Linked DNA regions of Homo sapiens. The protein of the gene in region 3 purifies or fractionates together with the protein of the main gene of each other region. This does not show direct contact. Each region holds a gene or a part of one and is shown on either strand. Other genes may lie near its edges. The genes, in order: DNAJC10, EMC2, EDEM3, ERAP1, TRAP1, LMAN1 and NUDCD1.

The links.
Region 1: the proteins of EDEM3 (region 3) and DNAJC10 purify together in Homo sapiens (affinity purification with mass spectrometry, with the first as the bait; one large-scale study listed by BioGRID). This does not show direct contact.
Region 2: the proteins of EDEM3 (region 3) and EMC2 purify together in Homo sapiens (affinity purification with mass spectrometry, with the first as the bait; one large-scale study listed by BioGRID). This does not show direct contact.
Region 4: the proteins of EDEM3 (region 3) and ERAP1 purify together in Homo sapiens (affinity purification with mass spectrometry, with the first as the bait; one large-scale study listed by BioGRID). This does not show direct contact.
Region 5: the proteins of EDEM3 (region 3) and TRAP1 purify together in Homo sapiens (affinity purification with mass spectrometry, with the first as the bait; one large-scale study listed by BioGRID). This does not show direct contact.
Region 6: the proteins of EDEM3 (region 3) and LMAN1 purify together in Homo sapiens (affinity purification with mass spectrometry, with the first as the bait; one large-scale study listed by BioGRID). This does not show direct contact.
Region 7: the proteins of EDEM3 (region 3) and NUDCD1 purify together in Homo sapiens (co-immunoprecipitation; one large-scale study listed by IntAct). This does not show direct contact.

What each region holds. Positions count from the first base shown.
Region 1 is NC_000002.12:182,792,111-182,794,964, reverse strand, and holds the end of DNAJC10 (dnaJ homolog subfamily C member 10 isoform 1 precursor), read right to left. Parts: 3' UTR 501-2,854; downstream 1-500. UniProt on the Homo sapiens protein: Endoplasmic reticulum disulfide reductase involved both in the correct folding of proteins and degradation of misfolded proteins.
Region 2 is NC_000008.11:108,478,124-108,481,623, reverse strand, and holds part of EMC2 (ER membrane protein complex subunit 2), read right to left. Parts: intron 2,619-3,500; coding exon 2,514-2,618; intron 1-2,513. UniProt on the Homo sapiens protein: Part of the endoplasmic reticulum membrane protein complex (EMC) that enables the energy-independent insertion into endoplasmic reticulum membranes of newly synthesized membrane proteins.
Region 3 is NC_000001.11:184,706,359-184,709,858, forward strand, and holds part of EDEM3 (ER degradation-enhancing alpha-mannosidase-like protein 3 isoform 2 precursor), read right to left. Parts: intron 1,987-3,500; coding exon 1,795-1,986; intron 470-1,794; exon of another isoform or gene 451-469; coding exon 285-450; intron 1-284. UniProt on the Homo sapiens protein: Involved in endoplasmic reticulum-associated degradation (ERAD). Accelerates the glycoprotein ERAD by proteasomes, by catalyzing mannose trimming from Man8GlcNAc2 to Man7GlcNAc2 in the N-glycans.
Region 4 is NC_000005.10:96,801,446-96,804,945, forward strand, and holds part of ERAP1 (endoplasmic reticulum aminopeptidase 1 isoform b precursor), read right to left. Parts: intron 2,499-3,500; 5' UTR 2,482-2,498; coding exon 1,958-2,481; intron 1-1,957. UniProt on the Homo sapiens protein: Aminopeptidase that plays a central role in peptide trimming, a step required for the generation of most HLA class I-binding peptides.
Region 5 is NC_000016.10:3,711,025-3,714,524, forward strand, and holds part of TRAP1 (heat shock protein 75 kDa, mitochondrial isoform 1 precursor), read right to left. Parts: intron 1-3,500.
Region 6 is NC_000018.10:59,342,266-59,345,765, forward strand, and holds part of LMAN1 (protein ERGIC-53 precursor), read right to left. Parts: intron 1-3,500. UniProt on the Homo sapiens protein: Mannose-specific lectin. May recognize sugar residues of glycoproteins, glycolipids, or glycosylphosphatidyl inositol anchors and may be involved in the sorting or recycling of proteins, lipids, or both.
Region 7 is NC_000008.11:109,243,754-109,247,087, forward strand, and holds part of NUDCD1 (nudC domain-containing protein 1), read right to left. Parts: intron 1,729-3,334; coding exon 1,569-1,728; intron 1-1,568.

The DNA.
Region 1 (2,854 bases), on a different chromosome or scaffold from region 3:
ACCGGATGGCCCTTCCATACTCTAGAGCTGCTGCTGCCAGTTTAACATCTATACTGGTTAATTTCATACATTCAAACACCTTACTTCATTTTCTTATCCATCTGCTGTAGCAATGTCACAAACTGGAAACCCCAGGCTGGATATGGTATTGTTTGACCCTCATATATTTAAATGTTTTAAGTAGTTGTGAACATTTGAAATATTTTACATAAAAACCCGGATTGGGGTAAATTCTGGGTAAACTGGAACATCTGGGTCTCTTTCTTCATGACAATACTCTTTTGGAGCAGAGAAACTACTGCCTTTTTAAAATAGTGCATGCACTAACTACCGTCATGTACTTTACCTACAAAACACCCTTAACTATGTGAGTTTGCAATGCCTGACTACAGCCTCACTTCACTCTGGAAGATAAGGACATTCGTACTTCTACCCGTCCTTAACCTGGGTCAGTGTATATAATTATTTTTATGTTGTTAAGCTGAAAATTGGTGACACAATTTGCATTTTTGTGACAAGTTTATTTCACTTCTACATGTTATAAAAAAACATAGCTCACTGCAAAGACAAACAGTAGAATCAAATCTAGAATGACATTTCTTACTCTGTAAGTTTAATGTGGTCATCATGCAAAGGAGAGAATCTGAATGGATTATTTCTATCCTTCATCTATTGTTTCCTATGTACTCAAATTTTTCTGAGGTCCGCAAATACGCATCTGACTTATTGCCTCATTCTTTCTCCTCAGAGACTTCTTTCCCAAGCTCTCTGCTCTCTCGCCCCATCTGCCCCAGGTGATGTTTAGGCCTCCTACTTAGCTGCTGTCCTGTGGATTTGTTCACTGCTCTCTTGGGTTGGAGTCACTGTTTCTTGGATCCCCATGCATTGTTGTTTATGCCTTCATTTGGAGGAGGTGTTTCATCACCTAACCACCTAAAAATATATTTATCATCTGCCTGCTACTTGTTAGTCTGGGTAGGTATGAATAGAATCCTAGGTTAAAAATATTTTCCTCTCAGAATTTGGAAGGCTTTGCTCCAAAGTCTTCTAGAATACTTCAAGCTCCAATTACTTTCTAATTGTTATTTTTTTGTAGGTAGTGTGTGTGTGTGTGTGTGTGTGTGTGTGTGTGTGTGTGTGTGTGATGTGTTTCCTCTCTGGAAAATTTTAGGATTGCTAAATTAAATAAGCAAGAGGACCTTGGCCTGAGGCTGTCTCCAGACTTTGAGTTCCCATGTAATAAATTGCAACCTAATTTAGTACTTAAATAAACTGAAACCTAATTTAGGATTATATAGATATATTTTTGTAACAGATAGGTCACAGCCAATTGCATGCTGCCAACTTGCCTTATTTGGAGCAGACCATGTCCAAATAAGGCAAATGCCTATCTGTAACCAATCAAGCTATTTCTGTACTTAATTTTTGTTTTCTGTCTATGAATGTTCACTGCATACCTCGCAAAGCAGAGCTCTCTGAATGTCTTCTGGTTCTCAGTGCTGCCTGATGGATGAATTGTTCTTCACTCAAATAAAATGTTAAATATATTTTGCTGAAAGTTTCTCTTTTACCAGGATCTTCTTTTTGGTTCTGGAATTTCACAATTTCACTGTGAGTAGAAGTTGAAGTCCTTACAAAAGTTAGAAAGCTAAAGTCCTTACAAGTGACCTGCAAAGCCCTCTATGATCTGGCTCCCCACTTTCTCTCTCCCTCTAACTTCATCTTCTCTCCTGCTAGCTCACTCCATTCCAGCCACATGAGCCTCCCTGCTGTTCCTTGAACCTGCCAAGCATGCCTTGGAGCCTGTCCTCTGGCCTTTCTCTCTGTTCATATGCTCTACCCTCAGCCCATTTAGTGGCTACATTTTTTCCACCTCCTTCAATGGCATCTTCTCCAAGAGACCTGCCCTGTCCACCCTATTTAATACCGAAACTCTCCTGCTGCTGCCCCCACACTCCTAATCCCTCATACCCTGGTCTACCTTTTTCTTTATTTCACAGCACATCTTCTAACATACTTCTAACATACTTAACATTTGCTTATATTAATTGTTTATTGTCTATCTCCCCACTGCGAGAATAGAATCTTCATGAGGTCAATACATTTAATACACTATCTTAAATGCATAGAACAAAGCCTAGCACATTGTAAGTACTCAAATAAATGTTTGCTGAGTGACATGGGGCTCATGTTGAGCTCATGTAACTTCCTCATAAATGATTTCTATTCAGGAAGGCCAAAGGAAAGATGACAAGGAGGATTACGATGTTCCATTAGCGGAAGAATTGAGTCTAACTTCACACACTTCTCTTGCAGATAAACTGGTTTGAGGTTATAGGCCTCTAATTTATCAAGAAAGAAACTGGCATGCATTTAGATGGACTGCTTAAGCCAATAGGTCTGTAATCTGTGGGGAGCAAAGAGGTGTTCTTTCAAACAATGAGAGGTTAAACAATACATTTATCAGATGGGACTTTTGTGAACATTGAGGGACAAAACAGGAAGCTGAAAAGGAAACCAATCAATTCTACCAGGGTTTATAACAGCTGTAATGAAAAGCCTTGGGGAAGGAAAGAAATTGGAATATATCCTCTTCATTATTTTTTGTACCTCAAAATGTTATCCTGTTCCACAACCCTCAAAACCCCTCACAAAGATAACCAACTACTGTAATCCTCATTTAATAAACATAGACTTCAGATAGTGCATTTAATTCTAATGAAACTTGTGCAAGATTATAGCATGGAGATAAAAAAATAATTGTTCACTGATGGTATGCAAGCATTTGTGAGGATTACTTATAAATTGACTTGAGCATCTCTTTTTTCTTTAATTTACTCTTTGAACATGTATT
Region 2 (3,500 bases), on a different chromosome or scaffold from region 3:
CTGTTATAATTCTTATTTCTATGTTATTAATTTAGTAAAAATTGATTTTAAAATAGTTATGTCAAAAAAGCACTCTGAGTAGCTGTTTCTCATATCTTAAAAACAATTATGTAGTATGCATAACGTTACTTTTATATTACACAAATCTTTTTTTTTAATATTACATAAATCACACACACCCACACACCCCCAAGCCTACTCTGTGTGGAACTCCATTACAGATCTGAGCTATCCCAAACTGCATTTGAAGAAGCACAGTCTCACTAATATTTATAAATACTCTGACTTAGAATATGCCAACAAAACTAACATGCTCTATAACAGACAATAAAAATACACAAAGGTGACTTTCAATGATGTGATTATGGAGGCACTACATTTGTAAAATCTTCTCAATTTTCTCCAACCAGAAGGGCAAAAACGAACAACAAAAAGCCAGCACCAAAACCAACATAACAGAACCCACGCCCACAGGTGACATTTTCAAAAAAACTAGGTAACAGTCAATTTTCCAAACCCTAGAATGTGACTATGTCATCAAGAGCAGCATGACCAACAAAAGATTAACAACTGTGTGGTAGGAGGAATAGAAAGTAATAGAGGACAACCTACTACTCTACAAGAAACCAAAAACCAAACAAATTATGAATTCTTAATCCACTAAACAAGAAAACCTGAGATGATGCAGCTGCCAATGGCCTAGAAGTCTTCATAAGCTCCAAAACAAAGATAAATGTAAAAAACTGCTCATAAATGTGAGATTAGACAAGTCTAACCGTCTAATATCTTAAAATTTCTAAAATATCTAGCAAACATCCTCTTCCAGAAGGACAAAACCTCACACCCTGAAGAAAAACAATTAAAAACTGAAACCAAACTGAACAGGGCAGAAACACCAGGGCAAGAAGGAGAGATGGTTCAGACAAGGAGGGGTGAGGAAAGGAGTGATGCCCAGAGGCAGCAATCCCAGAAGAAAACAAAACAAAAAGGAAGAAACACAAACTGTAACAACAATATGTAACATTTAAAGTGAGAGCAACACCTCAGAATTCAAGACTTTGAGGGCTCTAGAAACAGAACAGAGGGCTGAAGCCAGAAAATCTTTCTGAGTCACACTGAGTTCTAAGACAGACTGGCCATTCATACTCAGTTCTAAGAAAGACCGGCTATACAAAGAGGTCATATTTGAATTCTCTTTAGCAAAAAAGGAGACGGCCATAGAATAGCCAAGCTGGGAAAGCTACCCTAACCTATCTCCAACTCCCTGCCATTCCATAAACATTGTCTCCTAATAGTCCAGGAAAACTACCTCATTTAAACATGGAGGAAAGAAAAATATGAATCAAATTCATATTTTTATAAAATACAGAAAATGACAAAATAATTTGAAAGAAAATGAATAAAGGACATAGAAAAATGAAGTCTAATACACGTATTACTGAAACCCTGAAAAAGAAAACTAAGCAGAGAAAAAAATATTTGTAATTCTAAAAGCAACTTTTCTCAAATAAAAGGGCTAAACTGATGTACTAAATGGGTGTACTGTGTATTTGGGAAAACTGACCCAAGAATAATCAATAAAACAAATCATAGTAAGACTACTGGATTTTAAAGATAAAGAAAAAATTCCTTTGCGTAACCAGACAAGTCACTTATGATAAAAAGTAAGTCAAGACGGCATCATATTTCCTGACGGCAACATTTTATTCTGAAACAGAATGAAATAGCTGGGCATGGTGATGCCTGCACCTGAAGTCCCAGCTACTTAGGAGGCTGAGGTAAGAGGATCACATGAAGCCAGGAGTTCATGGCCAGCCTGGGCAATATAGCAAGATCTCGTCTATATTAAAAACAAAACAAAACTGAACAGTATGCTTAAGATACTTAGGTAAAGTATTAACGGGTATATAAAAAGCCAAATTGTCCTTTAAATATAAAGGCTATAGACAAATAAGGCTAAAGACATAAAAAGATGTGTTTTCCCATGAGCAAATTTCTAACGAAAAATAATTTCCTAAAAAATCTGCTAAGGACGAACTTTAGAAAACTAAGATACAAATGGAGAAGTTTCAGTAAAGGATCTGAAGTGTAAGCAGACTGCACAAACTTTGTTATGCAGTTTGATTAGTTTAAGGCTTTCTTCCTTCTTTTCTATTTCTTGAGATACCTATGATTAATAATACACTCACATACCCAATCTGCTTCTGAAATGTGACGTGATATTTATTTATCCTTTCTGAGTTTTTAGAATTACTTTGCGTTTGCCAAATGCAGAACCACTGAGATTTCCATATGGTAAGGCTAATTATGAAATAATAATACTAACAGATTCCTCTTGAGGGGAAAAAAAGGTAATCTTAAAACTACAAATTAATTCAAAACACAACACATTTGATAAAGCCCCAAAGGCATATATAAGTCCAATGCTAGACATACGACTTTGTAGTTTGTAGTAACAAAACTAAGAAATACATTAACTGACCTACATAGCAAAATGATCAATAAATACTAACCTGATAAGCTCTGTTTATTTGACTAGCTGCCCAACTAGCATATTTCATGTTGTCCTTTTTCGTTTTTGCACTTGCTTTTGGATTAGAAGCAATATGACTTGCCGACTAAAAACAAATAAAAACATCAAAAGCAAAATTCCTTTTTTGCTAGTCAAGATAATCAAAAACATAAGGGACATGGTTGCAATGGGATAATAAAGAATTTTTAAAAACTGTATTAAAATAATTTTTAATATAAACATAAAGTTGAATATTAGTGCTTAAAAATGAAAATATATTTTAAAATATAGTATAAATCCAAAATAGTGGAAAGGGAAAAGATATTTTAAATAATACCTAAAATTATTTAATTATGTACCTGTAACAGCTCTTAAAGGTAAAATTCCATATCATTTAAATAAAGAAGCTCTAGAAGAACACTTTATAAACCAAAAGCACTTTACCACTGTAGGATATTACTGGTGTTATTTCTTATTACTGAATTACATAACTTGCTATGTCAGAATCATAGAATTATTGAATATTTATAGAAAAAGGAAACTCAAAAATAATTTAGCCTGACATCCTACATTAATAGGTTAAAGAAATTTAAGTCCAATAAGAGAGATTTAACTTGACCAAAGCAAAATAATGGGTCTTCGAAATAAAGAAGATCCTTATCTCTAATCCATTTCTCTTTTCACTATACCATGAGTTTTCAAACTGTGTTTCAGAGAACTAATTAGTCCCTGCAATTTGATCCACCCTCTCCTTTTTAAAAATGTATTTAAATGAGCGGTTCTTAATCTGGGATCTGTGAAAGAATCCATAAAACCCCAAAATCATATGCTAATTATTAAATGTATATATTACTGTGAAGAGTAAGATATAACTTGATTCCTATTCTTAAATATATTTTACTCTTAAAAGAATATGACCATGTGATTCAAAAAAAGGTTAAGCCTTTGTTTTATGCCAGCCTGTGCTATAGGCTCTTTCACCTATGTC
Region 3 (3,500 bases):
TTATCCATGGTACTGAATTTTTTTACTACTCAGCCCTACCTCACCCTCACACCTAAACCCAAGTATTTTCACTGACATTAATATACAGAAATTCAAATCTAGACTTTTAAAAAAGATGTTAGATATCTAGAAATTAAAAGTCATTGGATTACCTATCCTTGTTGTCTAGGTGAGGTAAAAAAAACTATGACAAACTCTTTGATAAAATTTTAGAAAATAAAAGGGAAAAAATCCTAAAAATTATCTCCCCTTCAGTCAACACAATGACATGGATGATTACTTACCAATAACAATGCCACCAATGGCTCCAGCATTCTGGATGTTGCGTGCCTTTTCTGCAAACATGCACTGTCCTCTTTGTATCAGTGCGATTTTTCCCATCACTGCCTCTGGGTTAGTAAGCTCTGAACAACCATTGGATGGTTTACTGCTTGCAACAAATCCTCTTGTCTGTCAGAAATAAAAGCAACTTAAATACTTTAATCTTCTCAAATGGCAATCAAGTCATTAAACCTCAATATCTAGAGTTTTAAAAGAACTAGAACTCATTTCTTTTCTAATGATAACGTATCTAACATATAGTCACCATAAAATATTGTTTTAAACATTTTGCATATCACAGTACTCAACCAATATTTCTAGTGTGCTTTGCAGTTTATAGAACATTTTTATATAAACTACAAAATCTGTTATTTATAATGACCCTGAGCAAAACAATACAAATAACATTTCCCTTTCACATATGGGGAAATTGAGACTCAGGTTACGTAATTTGCTCACAATGTTAACACGATGTTACTAAGCAGTAAAGTTGGGACCTGCAGGCAGATTCACTACATTTACAATAGCTGGGAACTAATTTGAAATGATCATTGGTAACAAGAAAAGTTTTTGAAAGGGGAAAAAATGGACTTAGTCTATATGAATCTGCAAGCAGTTCTTTTTACCAAAAAAATTAAATCCACCAAGGAACTAATTTTTTTAAACACGTTACTATAAAGATGTTTTAATATCCTTCACTCTACTAAAATGTAAATTCCATAAGGGCATGGATCTTCATTGGTTTTGTAAACTGATACAGCAAGCAGTGCACAGAATATAGTAGGCACTCAATCAACAGTTGAATGAATCAATCAATCTATATAGCTTCTACATAGTTTAAAATATACATGAGAAAAAAGTCTAAATTAGCAGTAATAGAGTGAAAAGAGCATTGGCTTTAGATTGTCACGATACTTGGGCTCTGGTCCCAGCTCTGCAATCAATTAGTTAGATAACTTTGTGAATTGCTTAGTTATGTAAGTCTTTGTTTTCTACGTTATAACTATGTTACAACTATAGAGGATGGACTAGCTAAATGATCTTCAAAGTTTGCCCAGTGGAACCTCAGGGTCCCAGGCTTTCTCCAGTCACTTGAGCCAGAGCTTCTGTGCTTTTAGCTGTTTTCTACATTAAGCTCCTGGTTTAGACTTTTGTTCAAAGAAAGGTTCTAGTGGCTCTTAGAAAGTCTGAAAACCATTTTTAGATCAATTACAGGTATTAAATTAGAGAAGAGACCAAGAAATTGAATAGAACCTGAATAATATTTTAGTTAAAATTCTGTAAGCATATTATATACATAAATTATGACTCAAAGTTTTCAAGACATGCTTTTACTTTACTTAAATCCAGGAGATTGACTATTTCAGTTTTTTAAATAAATTAAAACTACTAAATTAGAGAAGAGACTAAGAAATAAGGCAATACTTAATATTTTAAATTCAGTTTCAACAACTATATTTTAAGTATACATACCTCTTTATGTTTAGACAGATCCAGCCCAAACTGAGCTGGTCCAGCAGTCAATACTACCCTGCCAAAAAATGGGTGGGAAACAATTTGTACAGCTCGTGGAGGCAGCTGCTGTTCTTTTTGTTGCTGACTTGACAATTCAATCATCTCCTGCATGAACCTCAACCCATCTTCAGCGTCGATTGAACTAGCAGCCTATGAAAAAAACAAATTCATTTTATCCTTCCTTTCTGGAAACTTCCACCAATTTTTTGATTTCCTAAAGACACTGTACTGTAGTATTCTACTCTACAACTTCTTCTTTCACTTTAGGTCACCACCAAGTATTTATGACCTTATTTGTACTCAAAAATAATACTTTCAGAAATAGTATTTCTGAAAATAACTTATCCGTATTTTTTATCAATGTCACTTTCGCTATTCTATAAACCACTTTTGATTCAGATTGAGAACTGGACTTCTAGCGAATGCTCAAATGCTCACTTTGCTTATTCTCCCCACTGGCTTTCCCTCTGAAGAAATAAACCTCATACCTGACCCACACTTTCCCTCCTTGAAATAGTGAACAACCAGATTCAATTTGATTCAAAACATATCTGTGAAGCACTTATTCCATCTCAGCACTTGCCTAGGCATTGGAGAGACAGTCCTTTAAGAAATTTGTGTCTGGAGGAGAAAGACATGTAAAGTTAGCTATGATAAAATTTCTCAAGTGGGAAAGTGGAAAAGGAGCACAGATGAGGGAACAATTGATTCTGCTTGTGTGTACCTGGGAAAGATTTAGAATGACACTTGAATTGAGTCTTAACAGAGGGAAAGTTGAAGAATGACTATAATAGAAAAAAATAAGATGATTCCTGATACTTTACAGGAAAAACCAACAAGACATGATAGAAGTTAGAGGATGGAAAAGGATAAGAGGAACTGGAAGAGAAGAAGAGTTCAAACCTATCCTGAAATTTCCAGCTTTGATGACTTAAAGAATGATGATAGGTTTTACTGACATGGAGAGCCAAAGAAGGAAACATAGGTTGAGGTGAGGGTAGAAAGAGAGTAAACAAGAAAGAGATAATTCAAGTTTGGACAGATTGAGATTGAGATGCAAGATGTATGAGAGGTAGATGAAAGTTGAATTTAATAGTAAATTTAGGAATCAGGATTCACATACATAGCTAAGAAGTCATATGTATAAAAATGATAGCTAAGCTTGTAGAAATAGGTGACACTGTTGAAGAAGAGTATATAGAGAAAAGAATATCATCCAGATTCTTGGAAACTGTTTACATTGAGTGGTTGTGCCAAGGAGAGCTACAAAGCAATAAACAGTGAAGTAGAAAAAGAACTTTGTTTCTGAAATATCCTGGGAAGCCAAAAAGGGAAAATGTTTTATGAAGGGTTCAGCCAATAGTTACAGAAAAGTTAAATCATATAAGGATCAAGAGGCCACTTGGCAGTAATTATGCCATTGGCAGCCTAAGTAAGTAAAAGCAATGTCACAAGAGATGTCACTCCCACTGAGGCCAAATAAAATACAAGGAAGAAGGAAGAATACTCTTAAAAGAAGGAAGGATGTGGCAAGAATATGGATGAGATGAAAACTTGAGGGTGTGATGAAGTTGTGGGAGGGTTGAATTTGAGATTAAAGGATACCTGAATATGGTTCTAGGTTAAAAATTATTCAGCAAACTATGTGGTTTTCTCAGAATCAA
Region 4 (3,500 bases), on a different chromosome or scaffold from region 3:
AGACCCTGTCTCGGGAAGAAAAAAAAAAAAGTTAAAAAGAAAAAGTAAAAAACAGGGAAAATTCATTTAAGAAGTATGTGAGGAAAACTTAATAGCCTTAACAGATAGTGAGATCCTAAAAATATGTAATCCTAAAAATGGCTCATACCTGTAATCTTGGCACTTTGAGAGGCCTAGGCGGGCGGATCACGAGGACAGGAGTTCGAGACCACCCTGGCCAACATGGTGAAACCCCATCTCTACTAAAAATACAAAAATTAGCTGGGTGTGGTGGTGCGCGTCTGTAATCCCAGCTACTCAGGAGGCTGAGGCAGGAGAATTGCTTGAACCCGGGAGGCGGAGGTTGCGGTGAGCCGAGTTCGCGCCACTGCACTCCAGCCTGGGTGACAGAGCAAGACTCCGTCTCGACAAAAAAAAAAAAAAAAAAAAAAAAAAAATCCCCAACAACCAAGGGAATCTCAGGCAAAGTCAAAGGTCATTAACAGGCAATTCATAAAAGAAGAACCTATAAATCATTAACAAACATATCAAAAGCTGCTCAACTTCCTTAATCAAAGTTACGTAAATTAAAAAGAGATCATTTATTTGGGGACCTTTTTTGCTCTAAAAAGACTGCCAATATACACTATTGGTGAGGGGTAAGAAAAAATGACAAAGTTTATCAAAAATTTATAGGCTCTTTGGCTTACCAATTTTACTTCTAGGCATTTATTCTAAAGAAATAATTTACAAAAATGCTCATCAAAGTGTTGTTGATACTGAAAAATTGGAAACAATTTCATTTCCATTCCCGAGGGATTAAAGATATTAATGTACAACTATGTATTTTAATAAAATCATTAAAAAGATGTCTAGTAATAGTCATTTATATAAAACATCTTCCCAACATATTAAGTTAAAAAATTTCCTTGTAAAAGAGAAAATATAAGAATTCTATTTATATAAAATAATATATATGCATATCCAGAAAGAAGTCTGGCAGAATATTCCAGTGAAATAGAAGTAGTGGTCAGTTCAGGGGGCTATGAGTGAAATAAATTTTACTTTCTTACCTTGATAAAATAATATGGAATTTGAAAAATAAATTAGTATAATCTACCAACAAATAAAATTCCATTTTAAAACTGAGCATAAAATCTCCCCCAAATAAGTCTCCTCCTTAAAAACAGAACCAAAGCAAGGTGAGAAGAGATCTCTAAAAAAGTTTTAACTGAGATAAAAGTATTTCCTCTAATATGTTGCTAGTAGGATTTGCTGAAGTCCTAACCTGTAGTATCTGTGCATGTGACCTTATTTGGACATAGGGTCTTTACAAGTATCATGGAGTGAAGAAGAGGCCACCAGGCTGGGCCCTAATCTGGTATGTCTGGTTTCCTTATAAGAAGATGGAGACTGGGACATAGGAAAATAGAATGGCCATGCGACTAACAGAGGGAGAAACTAGAATGACGCAGGTGCTAGGCATGGAGTACCAGGGATCCACGGCCACCACTAGATGCTAGGAAGATATAAGGAAGGATTCTACCCAGAGTCTGGAGGGAGCACGGGCCTGCTGACACCTTGATTTCAGACTTCTAGCCTCCAGACCTGAGAGAGAATACATTTTGTTGTTTATAGCTACCCAGTCTGTGGTACTTTGTTACAACAGCCCTAGGAAACTAATACACAGTTCAGGAAAATTAAACATGTTTATTATGTCTCAGAAATCGAACCAAATAAACAAATAGATATTTACTCTGATAGAGCTGGGGGAAAGAAAATTGGTTAAAATAGAATTTTAAAATGAGATTTAAAAAGCAAGGGAAAAAGCCATTTTTAACACTATAAAGAAGATGCAAAAGCAAAACTGAAGAAAAAGTTCAACAGCAAAGGGAATTTTAAAAGACAATCAATCTGAAATAATGAATTTAGCGTGGGCAGCACTTGCAGTTTAAAAGAAAAAGAGAAAAAAAAATACCTCAGTTCCCCTTCCTTGGTTCTGTAGGTGCTTTTGTAAAATCCGTGGAAAGTCTCCGAAAGATTGCCAGCATAGTGAATGACAACTGTGTACGGGAGCCCGACAAGGAGGGGCTCGGGAGCCAGCAGTGCAATTTGCTCCTGACGGGGGTGTTCCAGGACCTGCAGGGGTTCTTCCGATAGCCTCTCTCCAGCTCCCTTCCTGAGGGTGGCCCTAGATATCTGCAGGTGGTGACTATGCAGGATGATGGTGCTGGTGGGCTGACTGGCTGTGATTTCTACTTTCGTGGTTCCCCAGAAGGTCAGCGTGGTAAGGTTTGCATGGATCAAGAGATCATAATGAACTGGGATGACGTACTCAGGAAGTCGTATTTTATTCCAAGGAAATGGTGTCCCATCACTACGTTTTGGAGATGCTTCAGTGCTCTGACACCATGAAGGAGTGGACACAGTTAAGAGAGCCAACAGTGAGGAAAGTAGAAATGACATGGTTGCAAGGGACCATTTGAGGGGCAGAAACACCATCTTCTTGCTCTACCTACCTAGCGGCACAAATGTACAAAAGCAAAAATATATGTCATTAAAATGTTATTGACACAGCATAATTTCAGAATGTATCCACCCAGCATTCACAGAAATAGGCATAAACTTCCAAAAGTACTAGGTCTTTTCCTGAAAGTAAAAGGACCTTCCCTATGTTATGGTTTCATATAAGAAAGATGTTTACAGTTAGCAACAATCATTAACACGTACTAGAAAGCATCATTTGATGTTCAAAGTTTAAATTAACTCTACCTGTCAGGGTTCTTGGTTGAAAGCAACCGAACAAGCTCTGGCTGATATAGGCAGAAAAGGAATCATTAGGGGATCCTGAGTGGCTCACTACACGGGTCACAGAGTTGCAGGACATTTGGGAAACCAGGCTCATGAAAGAAGCAAAACCAGAACCATATCAGAGGAACATCTGATCAAGCACCACTCCCCACTGACACTGGACCTTGGAGAAAGTCACCCTAGTACCCTGGAAATCAAATGCTGACACAGTGGCAGCCACCACTAGAACGAGGTCTCCACTTCCCCTGTAAGTATATGTAATGGTAACCTTTAATAACATCAGTGTCTTCCTCAAATTGTCATGCCAAAAGTTAATTACCTATTTATTTAGCCAGGAAGAGCTTAAAGAGCTTAATTTTCCCAGTAGTTTGTGGCAAACGTATCAATCACCTGGATTGATTTTAAAGACATAAAAGCAATGTGAATTTCAGGCCAGGCATGGTGGCTCACGCCTGTAATCCCAGCACTTTGGGAGGATGAGGTGGGCAGATCACAAGGTCAACAGATTGAGACCATCCTGGCCAACATGGCGAAATCCCGTCTCTACTAAAAATACAAAAATTAGCTGGGTGTGGTGGTGCGCACCTGTAGTCCTAATTACTTGGGAGGCTGAGGCAGGAGAATCGCTTGAACCTGGGAGGCAGAGTTGCAGTGAGCTGAGATTGCACCACTGCACTCCAGCCTGGCAACAGAGCAAGACTCTGTCTTTA
Region 5 (3,500 bases), on a different chromosome or scaffold from region 3:
CTAATTGGAAAAAAAAAAAAAAGGGTTTTTTGGTAGAGATGGGGGTCTCTCTAGGTTGCCCAGGCTGGTCTCAAACTCCTAAACTCACAGGATCCTCCCGCCGCAGCCCCCAAAGTGCTGGGATTACAAGCATGAGCTACCAGGCCTGGCCAATTTTTTACCTTCTAGCCACATTTCTTAATTATATGGCTATGAAGTAACTGAGCCATTCCTTTTAAAACCAATGATTCAGCTACATGTCCTTTCAATCTACCCAATCTACAGGAATTCACCTGGTTAAAAAGCCAATGGCAGGGCTGGGAACGGTGGCGCACACCTGTAATCCCAGCACTTTGGGAGGCCGAGGCAGGCAGATCACAAGGTCAGAAGTTCAAGACCAGCCTGGCCAACATGGTGAAACTCTACCTCAACTAAAAATACAAAAATTAGCCGGGCACGGTAGTGCATGCCTGTAGCCCCAGCTACTTGGGAGGCTGAGGCAGGAGAACTGCTTGAACCCGGGAGGTGGAGATTGCAGTGAGCCGAGTTCGTGCCACTGCACTCCAGCCTGGGAAACAGAGCAAGACTCCATCTTGAAAAAAACAAAAAAAAAACAAAAACCAAAACAAAAACAAAAAAAACACAGGTGGCAGTAATACTCCCGCAAGTAGATACTGTTTCTCCAAGCTACAGCTTTTATGGTAATTCCTAGTGGTTTTAGCAGAAATAACCAGCCACACCACAAATAAACTCCCTGAAATCTATTTTGTTAAATGCTGTGGAACTACAGGGAAGCCACTTTGTGGACTAAGAGCAGCTTCCTAGTAGAAGGCAGGTCTTCAGTAGGACTAAGCAGGACGGTGGTAAGAAAAGTTCTAGCTGGCTACACTTGAGGCACCAAAAACGCCATCCATGAACATTCTCTGGCTTTGAACCCAAAAGCACTTTTTACTTCATTTGAGTATGAATGGATACATTTTCAATCGCTATCAAGATTCTTTGTCAGGCCCGACGTGGTAGCTCATGTCTGTAATCCCAGCACTTTGGGAGGCCAAAGCAGGCAGATCAAAAGGTCAAAAGATTGAGACCATCTTGCCCAACACGGTGAAACCTCGTCTCTACTAAAAATACAAAAATTGGCTGGCCATGGTGGCATGCACCTGTAGTCCCAGCTACTCAGGAGGCTGAGGCAGGAGAACTGCCTGAATTCAGGAGGCGGAAGTTGCAGTGAGCTGAGGTCATGCCACTGCACTTCAGCCTGGCGACAGAAAGAATCTGTCTCAAAAAAAAAAAAAAAAAAAAAAAAAAAAAAAAAAGATATGTCAGCATTTTGAGACAAGCAAGTATCACAGGCCTCAGTAACAGCCTCTTTCATGGAACTCACCTTTGTCACATGGTATTTACTGACATGGGGGGCAGGAGTAAATGTTTATTTTCCCACAGTTTTCTTATCAACCTGACACCCCCATCCCCACCCCGCAAGCTGCATTCCCTCTCTTCCTGCCAAGGGGTAGCAAAATACTTGGAGATTCCTCTTTTGTCTTAGCTTAGGCCAACTACTCACCCAGTAACCAATAAACGCTTTGCTAATCTCTTACATTCGGATTGATGTGTTTGTTTCCAAGACAGAGTCTTGCACTGTCGCCCAGGAGGGAGTGCAGTGGCACAATCTTGGCTCACTGCAACCTCCAACCTCCACCTCCCAGGTTCAAGCAATTCTCGTGCCTCAGCCTCCCAAGTATCTGGGATTACAGGCGCCTGCCACCACCCTGGCTAATTTCTTTGTATTTTTAGTAGAGACGGGGTTTCGCCATGTTGGCCAGGTTGGTCTCAAATTCCTGAACTCAAGTGATCCACCCACCTCGGCCTCCCAAAGTGCTGGGATTACAGACGAGAGCCACCGCGCCCGGCCTGATGTGTTCTTTTTCAGGCACTCAGATAACTCAGTTCCCTTGGTCCTAACTAAGCTGAAGGTCCTCCTGGTGGCCTTGGACAGCTGGGCCACACCTTCCTCTGCCGTCTAAGTGCCAGCACCACAGCTTAATCAGACGACAAACATGTCATGGACGCTACACCTCTAGCGTCATCTCAGCAACACAAAGAGCTGTTTCACAGACAGAGTCGCAACTGACCAGCAAGTACTACTCCCCTCCACTCTGAAAAGAACAGCCGGAGAGCACCAGAAATTCACCTGAATTCTCCTGAAGGGTGCAGCACACAAGACACGGAAATCAAACAGCACAGGCTCCAAACAAAGGGAGAGCAGAGGGAGGAGGCAAAACCCGTCAACAAAACGAAGTACTGAAGGGGAGGGCGCAGCAGGCAGGCACCACCTACAGGAGCGGGGTCCAGGTGAGGCTCTTTTTGGAAGATGAAACAAACTAGCTAGTACTTGAGCCCTGAGCAAAGTGAGGAAACCAGCTCTCCCGACCTTCCTGGTGCTGGCAGGGGACCTACTCTCACAACTCTGATTTCCAAGACAGGAAGTTCCAGCAAAGGCTCCAGCTTACAGAGAACAAAAAGGCCCAAGATCTTAACGCCTGCACCAACCAGTCCTATCGTGGTTGCCTCAGTCATGTTCTGGCAATTTCACGAAAACAAGAGCATCTGGCATGACCAGGAGACTGGACTCGGCACCCTTGGTGATTGTGGCAGTCACCTCGTCATGCAAAATGACCAACCCGTCACCGTACCTGCCTGACCACAGAATCACGTTTGCTTTGGGAGACTGCGTCTGCTGTTGATCTTTCCAGGTCTTCCCTCTCCTTTAGGAGGCGGCCTCATCCTTCTACTGGCACATCTGACACTTCTGACAGTTGGAGCTCTGACGAAAAGCTCTCATGGTGGGCCACGTGGCTGGGCTCCCCACACACCAGGCCCAGGGCTGGCTCTGTGACTGTCCTGAGGAATGCAGGATGAGGCTCCTACGCACAAGCTTATATCTGACAGAAAAGACACAACTGCTAGCCTCATTCACCATCACTCCTGCACACTCCCGCAAGTCTTTCATCAAACCAATTATTCAGAGCTATCTCCTTACCCTTGCACCTGCAGCTTTCCAGACATGGAACGTTCCTCCCTCCCCTCCAGTGAAAACAGCCTTGGACACTCGGCCCAAATCGCTCCTCATCTGTGAAACTTACCCTGGGGCAAGCAGCTCTTGTTTCTCTAATGTGCTGTCCAGGCCACCAAGATGGCCCTGGTACACTGCTCAGCAGCCACCTATGACTCCAGACAGCAGGGTCACATTTTCTTTGACGACTCGGGGGCATTGGAAATGTATTTGCTGAATAAACTGTTATGGGCAAAAATGACAAATATAAAGTCCACAAGCGGATATCCTAGCCCACCCCTCACAGAAATATTCTGAGGGTAGGCCAGGCGCAGTGGCTCACGCCTGTAATCCCAGCATTTTGGGAGGCCAAGGCTAGTGGATCATGAGGTCAGGAGTTCGAGACCACCCTGGCCAGCATAGTGAAACCCCATCTCTATTAAAAATACAAAACCTAGCTGGGTGTGGT
Region 6 (3,500 bases), on a different chromosome or scaffold from region 3:
CTCCTGAAATTATTCCAAAACACTGAGGAGAGAATTCCCCCTAACTCATCCTATGAGGGCGGTATCACCCTGATACCAAAACCAGACAAGGACACAAAAAAATAGAAAACTACAGACCCATATCCCTGATGAACAAAGATGCAAAAATCCTCTACAGAATACCAGCAAAATGAATCCTACAGCACATCAAAAAGATAATACAGCACGATCAAGGTGGGATTTATCCCAGGGATGCAAGGAGGGTTCAACATATAAAAATCCATATATATGATACACCACATAAACAGAATTAAGAACAAAACACATGATCATTTCAACAGACTCAGAAAGGACATTCAATAAAATTCATCATCCCTTCATGATAAAAATCCTCAATGAACACACCTCAACATTAGGCCACATATGACAAACCCACAGCCAACCTCACACTTAACAGGGAAAAGTTGAAAACATTCCCTTTAAGAACTGGAACAAGACAAGGATGCCACTTTTATCACTCTTACGTGTAATAACATAATACTAGAAGTCTTCACCAGAGCAATCAGGCAAGAGAAAAAAATAAAAGGCATCCAAACTGGAAATGAGTAAGTAACATTATCCCTGTTTGCTAATGATATGATCTTATATCTCAAAAATCCTAATGACTCCACCAAAAAACTCTTAGATTTGATAAATGAATTCAGTAATGTTTCAAGATAAAAAATTAATGTACAGAAATCGGTAGCATTTTCATATACTGATAATGATCTAGCAGACCAAATCTAGAAGGCAATTCCATTTACAACAGCTAAAAAAAAAAAAAAACACCTAGAAATATATTTAACCAAGAAGGGGAAAGCTCTCCATAAGGAGAACTTCAAAACAACGATGAGAGAAATGGTAGATGACACAAACAAATGGAAAAGTATCCCATGCTCATGAATTGGAAGAATCAATATTGTTAAAATGACCATACTGCCCAAAACTATCTACTAGTTCTAGACACTCCCAATCAAATTACCAATGTCATTTTTCACAGAATTAGAAAAAAAAAATCCTAAAACTCATATGGAAAAAAAAGGGAGCCCAAATAGCCAAAGCAATGCTAAGCAAAAGGAATAAATCTGGAGGCATCACATTACCTGACTTCAAATTATACTACAAGGCTAAAGTAACCAAACCAGCATAATACTGGTATAAAAACAGACACATAAGTCAGTGGAACAGAACAGAGGACCAGGAAATAAACCCACATACCTACAATCAACTGATCCTCAACAAAGTCAACAAAAATAAACACTGGGGAAAGGACATCCTATTCAATAAACGGTGCAGAAAAAATTGAATAGCTATATATAGAAGAATGCAAGTGGACCCATACTTCTCACCATATGCAAAAATTAACTCAAGATGGATTAAAGACCTAAACATAACACATGAAACCATACAAATCCTAAAAGAAAACTGAGGAAAGACTCTTCTGCATATTGGCCTAGGTAAAGAACTTAGACCAAGTCCTCAAAGGCAAACACAAGAAAAACAAAAATAGACAAATGGGACTTAAACTAAAAAGCTTCTACACAGCAAAAGAAACAATCAACACAATAATCTAACCTACAGAATGGGAAAAAATATTTGCAAACTATGCATCCAACGAAGGGCTAATATCCAGAATCTACAAGGAACTCAAACAACTCAAGAGAAAAACAAAAAGCCCATTAAAAAACTGGGCAAAGAGCATGAACAGACATTTTTCAAAAGAAGACACGCAAGTGGCCAACAAATAAATGAAGAAATGCTCAACATCACTAATCATCAAAAAAATCCAAATTAAAACCACAATGAGATACTATCTTACACAAGTCACAATGGCCATTATTAAAAAGTCAAAAGACAACAGATGTTGTCAAGATGTGGAGAAGAGGGAATGCTTATATGCTGTTGGTGGGAATGTAAATTAGTACAACCTTCATGGAAAACAGTATGGAGAATTCTCAAAGAACTAAAATTAGAATTACCGTTTGATCCAGCAATCCCACTACTGGGTGTTTACCCAAAGGGAAAGAAATCATTATATCAAAAAGATACTTGCACTTATACGTTTATTGCAGCCCTATTTACAATAGCAAAGATATGGAATCAACCTAAATGCCCATCAACAGAGAACTTGATAAAGAAAATGTGGCGTGTGTGTGTGTATATATGTATGTATATACTATAGACTACTACTCAGCCATAAAATAAGAATGAAATTATGTCTTTTGCAGCAACATGGATGGAACTGGAAGTGATTATCCCAAGTGAAATGACTTAGAAAGTCAAATACCATACATTCTCACTTATAAGTAAAAGCTAAACAATGGGTACACATGGACAAATGGAGTGGAATAACGGACACTGGAGACTACAAAAGGTGGGAGGGGAATGAAGGTTGAAAATTACCCACTGAGTACCAGGTTCATTAGGGTGAGAGTACACTAAAACCCCAGACTTCACCACTATATGACACAAGCATATAAGAAATCTGCACTTGTACTCTTCCTAAATACATAAAAAGTTAAATAAAATTAAAATGGAAAAATATTTCTCTTTCATTACACTGTGTGATTCTACTTATAAGAATAGGCAGAACTAATCTACAGTGATAACAATAAGAATAGTGATGGGCTCTGTGGAGAAGGTTGTTGACTTTAAGGAGGCATGAGGGAACTTTCTGGGATGATAAAAATGTTCCGTGTACTGATCGGGGTGATGGTTAAATGGGTATACACATTTGTCAAAATTTACTAAACAATACTTTTCAAACACTAAAGTCAGCTTCAGGATATACTCACAAATTTTATGTGATGATGTTTAAAACAAATTCAAAATAAGAATGACCTTTATGTTTCATTTTTAAATTCATTAAGTCTGACTCATACTGTTGATCATTAAGAGAACTGCATACTACATAGAGTTCAAATGCTAGCCACAGCCTTTATTAAGTACACCTTTGATCACTTATGCTGACTGGGAACAATTCAGATAAAAAGCTAGCAGATAATATAAATTCCCTCAATTTGGCCTTAAAATGTTTTATTTTTGACATTAGCACACTCACGTTCTTAATAACATTGGGTTAGACTAGTATTTTATAATTTTCAAGTATACAGTCCAGGATTCTATCGAGTAGTATGGGGAGGAGAAGCAGATATGTCACATTACTTTCACAACAGTTTTGATAGATTTTAAGGATTATCTCCACACTATAAGGTAATTATGTGTCACTAAAACCAAAAATATACACTTTTGATGATTTCAGTCAAAAAATATTTACTGAACCTGAACTACTAGGTTAGCATTGTTTTGGATTTATTTTTAGGCTTAGTGGTCACAGCAATGAATATTAACAAAATCCCTGTCCTCATGGAGCTTTCACTCTAGCGGTCCCATTCCTCCAAATAACCATGGTACTCTTTATTTCATACATGACTAAGCCACATTCTCACTGGTAAAAATGCCAATCTCTTGACTCTTAAAGA
Region 7 (3,334 bases), on a different chromosome or scaffold from region 3:
TTTTCTGTTCATAATGTATCCCTGAATGTACTAGTATTCGTGATGCATTCTCTTATTATCCCTAAAATGTTAGTGATATTTTTATACATCAATACCAACACTGTAACTGGATTTTTTTGTACTTTTAGCCCCCACAAGTAGAATGTTGATCACTATAACTTCAAAAATAATTTCAAGTCTCTAAACTGAAAAAAATCCTTATCTTAATTCATGTACATGTTTAAAAAGTATCTTTTTGGATTAAAACAACATTTATATTCCAAAATATAAATTATGATTTTTAGATAGTGACATGGTTAGCAAATGTTAGGTATTTATGATCATGTAAAATAAGAATATAACATTAATTAAAATTGAGATCTCATCAAACAATGAATAAGCAAAGGAACTACTGAGCACATGCAGATCAATACTGTTTTTAAAAATATTAAGCAGGTTTGAAGCAGGAAAAGTGAAGATTTAGATACCTATTTAAATAGTTTAAAGTAGCTATCCAGGCTAACCTTGACAGAATAATGTATATAATATTTCAAGAGTACATATCTAATATATGTTGATTTAACTTAGAATTAAGCATAGAATTCCCCTATAATAGGGGATTTGGGGATACAAATAGAACATCTGAGCATCTAAAGATGATATGATAGAGCTTTCTTCTGACCAAAGTATAGATAATTAAAAAATAGCATTATAGTAGGGAGGCTAAAAATTATATGGTTAAATTAGTTAACCAAACTTTGTACTTCAGGTCATAAAAATCCATTTGGAGTCTGAACCAGTTTAGCAGCCTACATTATTAACTATAAGGGATAATTAATAAATTTCTTCTACAATTAGGGTTGTGCACATATAGCCATCAAAATACGTAACTTCACTTCTTGCTGCCTGTTTAAAATAACCTTTCAATAAAGCAACAACTGTGGCTAATTCACATAAAAAATTTCTGTCACACAATACTAATGCATTTTGACAGAAAATCAATGATTGCATACGTCTATAATTAAGTAGTTTAAACATTGTCAAGCCCTAATTTTAAAACTGATTTTTTTCCTTTTATCCTACCAAATAAATTTAATTTCTGCTTATCACCGCTTTCCATAAGTATTTTCATTATAATGGCTCTCTTTTGTACTTAATTTTGACAAAAGATGTCTCCTAATGTGCATTACACCTTAGGGGAATTCTATGATGTTTCTGAAGATTACTCTGAAGAAACTTGAACACCAGTTCCATGTAGGGTATTATCAAGCTCCTTGCTCAGACTCCAGTATTATATGGCTTACAGAATTAGAAAAAGCAAATGACTTATTAGAATAATTCAAGTGGTTAGATAACCACTTTCATTTCTATTCTGTGTTGATCTTCTGTACAAGCATAAAAACAGATTAGTCTAAATGTTCCAACAGTGCTAACACTCACAACTAGTACAAGCAAACAAATCATAGCGCAAATCAATCTAAATGTAATCAGGACAGCTCAAATTAAAAAGAAAAAAAAGAAATGAACTTTAAATGAATGATGACTGTATTTCTGATTTCATGGAAAATGTCAAAGAGTTTGCTTTATACCTAAAGCATTGAAAGTTGCGATGTGCTCCCACATATCATCTTGTTTGCTGGAGTGTGGTTGCCAGAGTAGGGCATCAACATCATGGCGCAAACAGAAGCAGGGCATTTCTTTAGGATCCACTATGACAGAGAAAAGGTACTGGTTGCTTCCAAGATTCACCTAAAAAGTGATTTAAAAAAAAATTTACTCAACAACAAATTAATAATAGCAACAATAACAATGGCAGAAGCTGACAGCCAGCATTAAGTGTCAGCAACTGTTTTATACTTTTTATATACTTAATCTGATTGACTCCTCATAATATCCCTGAGATAAATGTGCTACTGTTATGTTCATTTCAAAGCTGAGGAAAGTGATGCACAAGGCATTTAGGTAACTTGTCGATGGTCAGCCTGGCCATAAGTCATGGAGCTGAAATTTGGACCCAGAGTCTATGTTCTTAATCACCACGTGATATACCACCTCTTAATTGTTAGTAAATAGTTTAAAACACGATATAAAGCAGGGGTCCCCAGTCACTGAGCCGCAGACTGGTACCAGTCAGTGGCCTTTTAGGAACTGGGCCGCACAGCAAGAGATGAGCAGCAGGCAAGGGAGCATTACTGCCTGAGCTCCACCTCCTGTCAGATCAGCAGTGGAATTAGATTCTCACAGGAGGGTGAACACTATTGTGAAATGCACATGCAAGGGATCTAGGCTGTCTGCCTTATGAGAATCTAACTAATACCTGATGATCTGAGGTGGAACAGTTTCATCCTGAAACCATCCACCAAGCCCCCACAGGCCCATGGAAAAACTGTCTTCCACAAAACTGGTCCCTGGTGCCAAAAAGGTTGGGGACTGCTGATATAAAGCACCAATTTTATAAGCAGACTATTTTTAGGCCATAGAATACACACATGAAGTTTACTAATGCTAACTTGTAATAATTACCAAGAACAATGACACTACCAGAATTTATGAGCACACTCTCATAACATTTATAACCAGGCATGTTATAAATACTAATCTTAACAACTCGCAAGGCTATTATTATCTTCATTTAAGGGATGAAAGAACAGGCTTGGAGAGTTTGAGTAACTTGTTCTAGGCTAAAGAGAAATATCACAATGCTGGAATTCACACTCAGATGTTTAAAACTATTTACTTAAACGTACTGCTTAATTAAAGTATCAATGTCAATATGTCAATAATGTCAACATTTGTTATTGTAACACATCAATAATTGTTACTGCAATATTGATGCCTAAAGAAATGCATTTTAATACAAAATCATCAAATTGAAACTCACTGAATTTCATCTACAGCAATACTTTTTCTAAATGAAGACATGTTGTAAGGATAGTCTTCTTTATGAGAAATGTTATTATCAGAGTTGAAAATACGAAACAGAATACCAACAAAAATCACATCAAATGTAGAAAATATAAAATATGCACAGTACTTATAAATATGTAATTGATTCTAGGAGTTTGCAAGCAGACTGGAGAACCGTAAAAGATTGGGTTAAAGTAAGAAGTGGAGACCTGACCTGAATTCAACAGGGAAAGCTGTGAAGTGGCTCTCCAGCAAGGGGACCTATTATTGGTAAAGCTGTGACAACACAGGCTATTGGTCACAGGAGAATACAGTGTCAGAGCAACCCATCTTCTGCTCCCCAGCAATGCCAGGGAAATAGGGCTTTTTCGTAGAGCCAGTGCTTGCTCTCTACAAAATAAGGGGAGAAGGCCAGCACACAGAGACCACAGACTATTTCTTTTCTCTC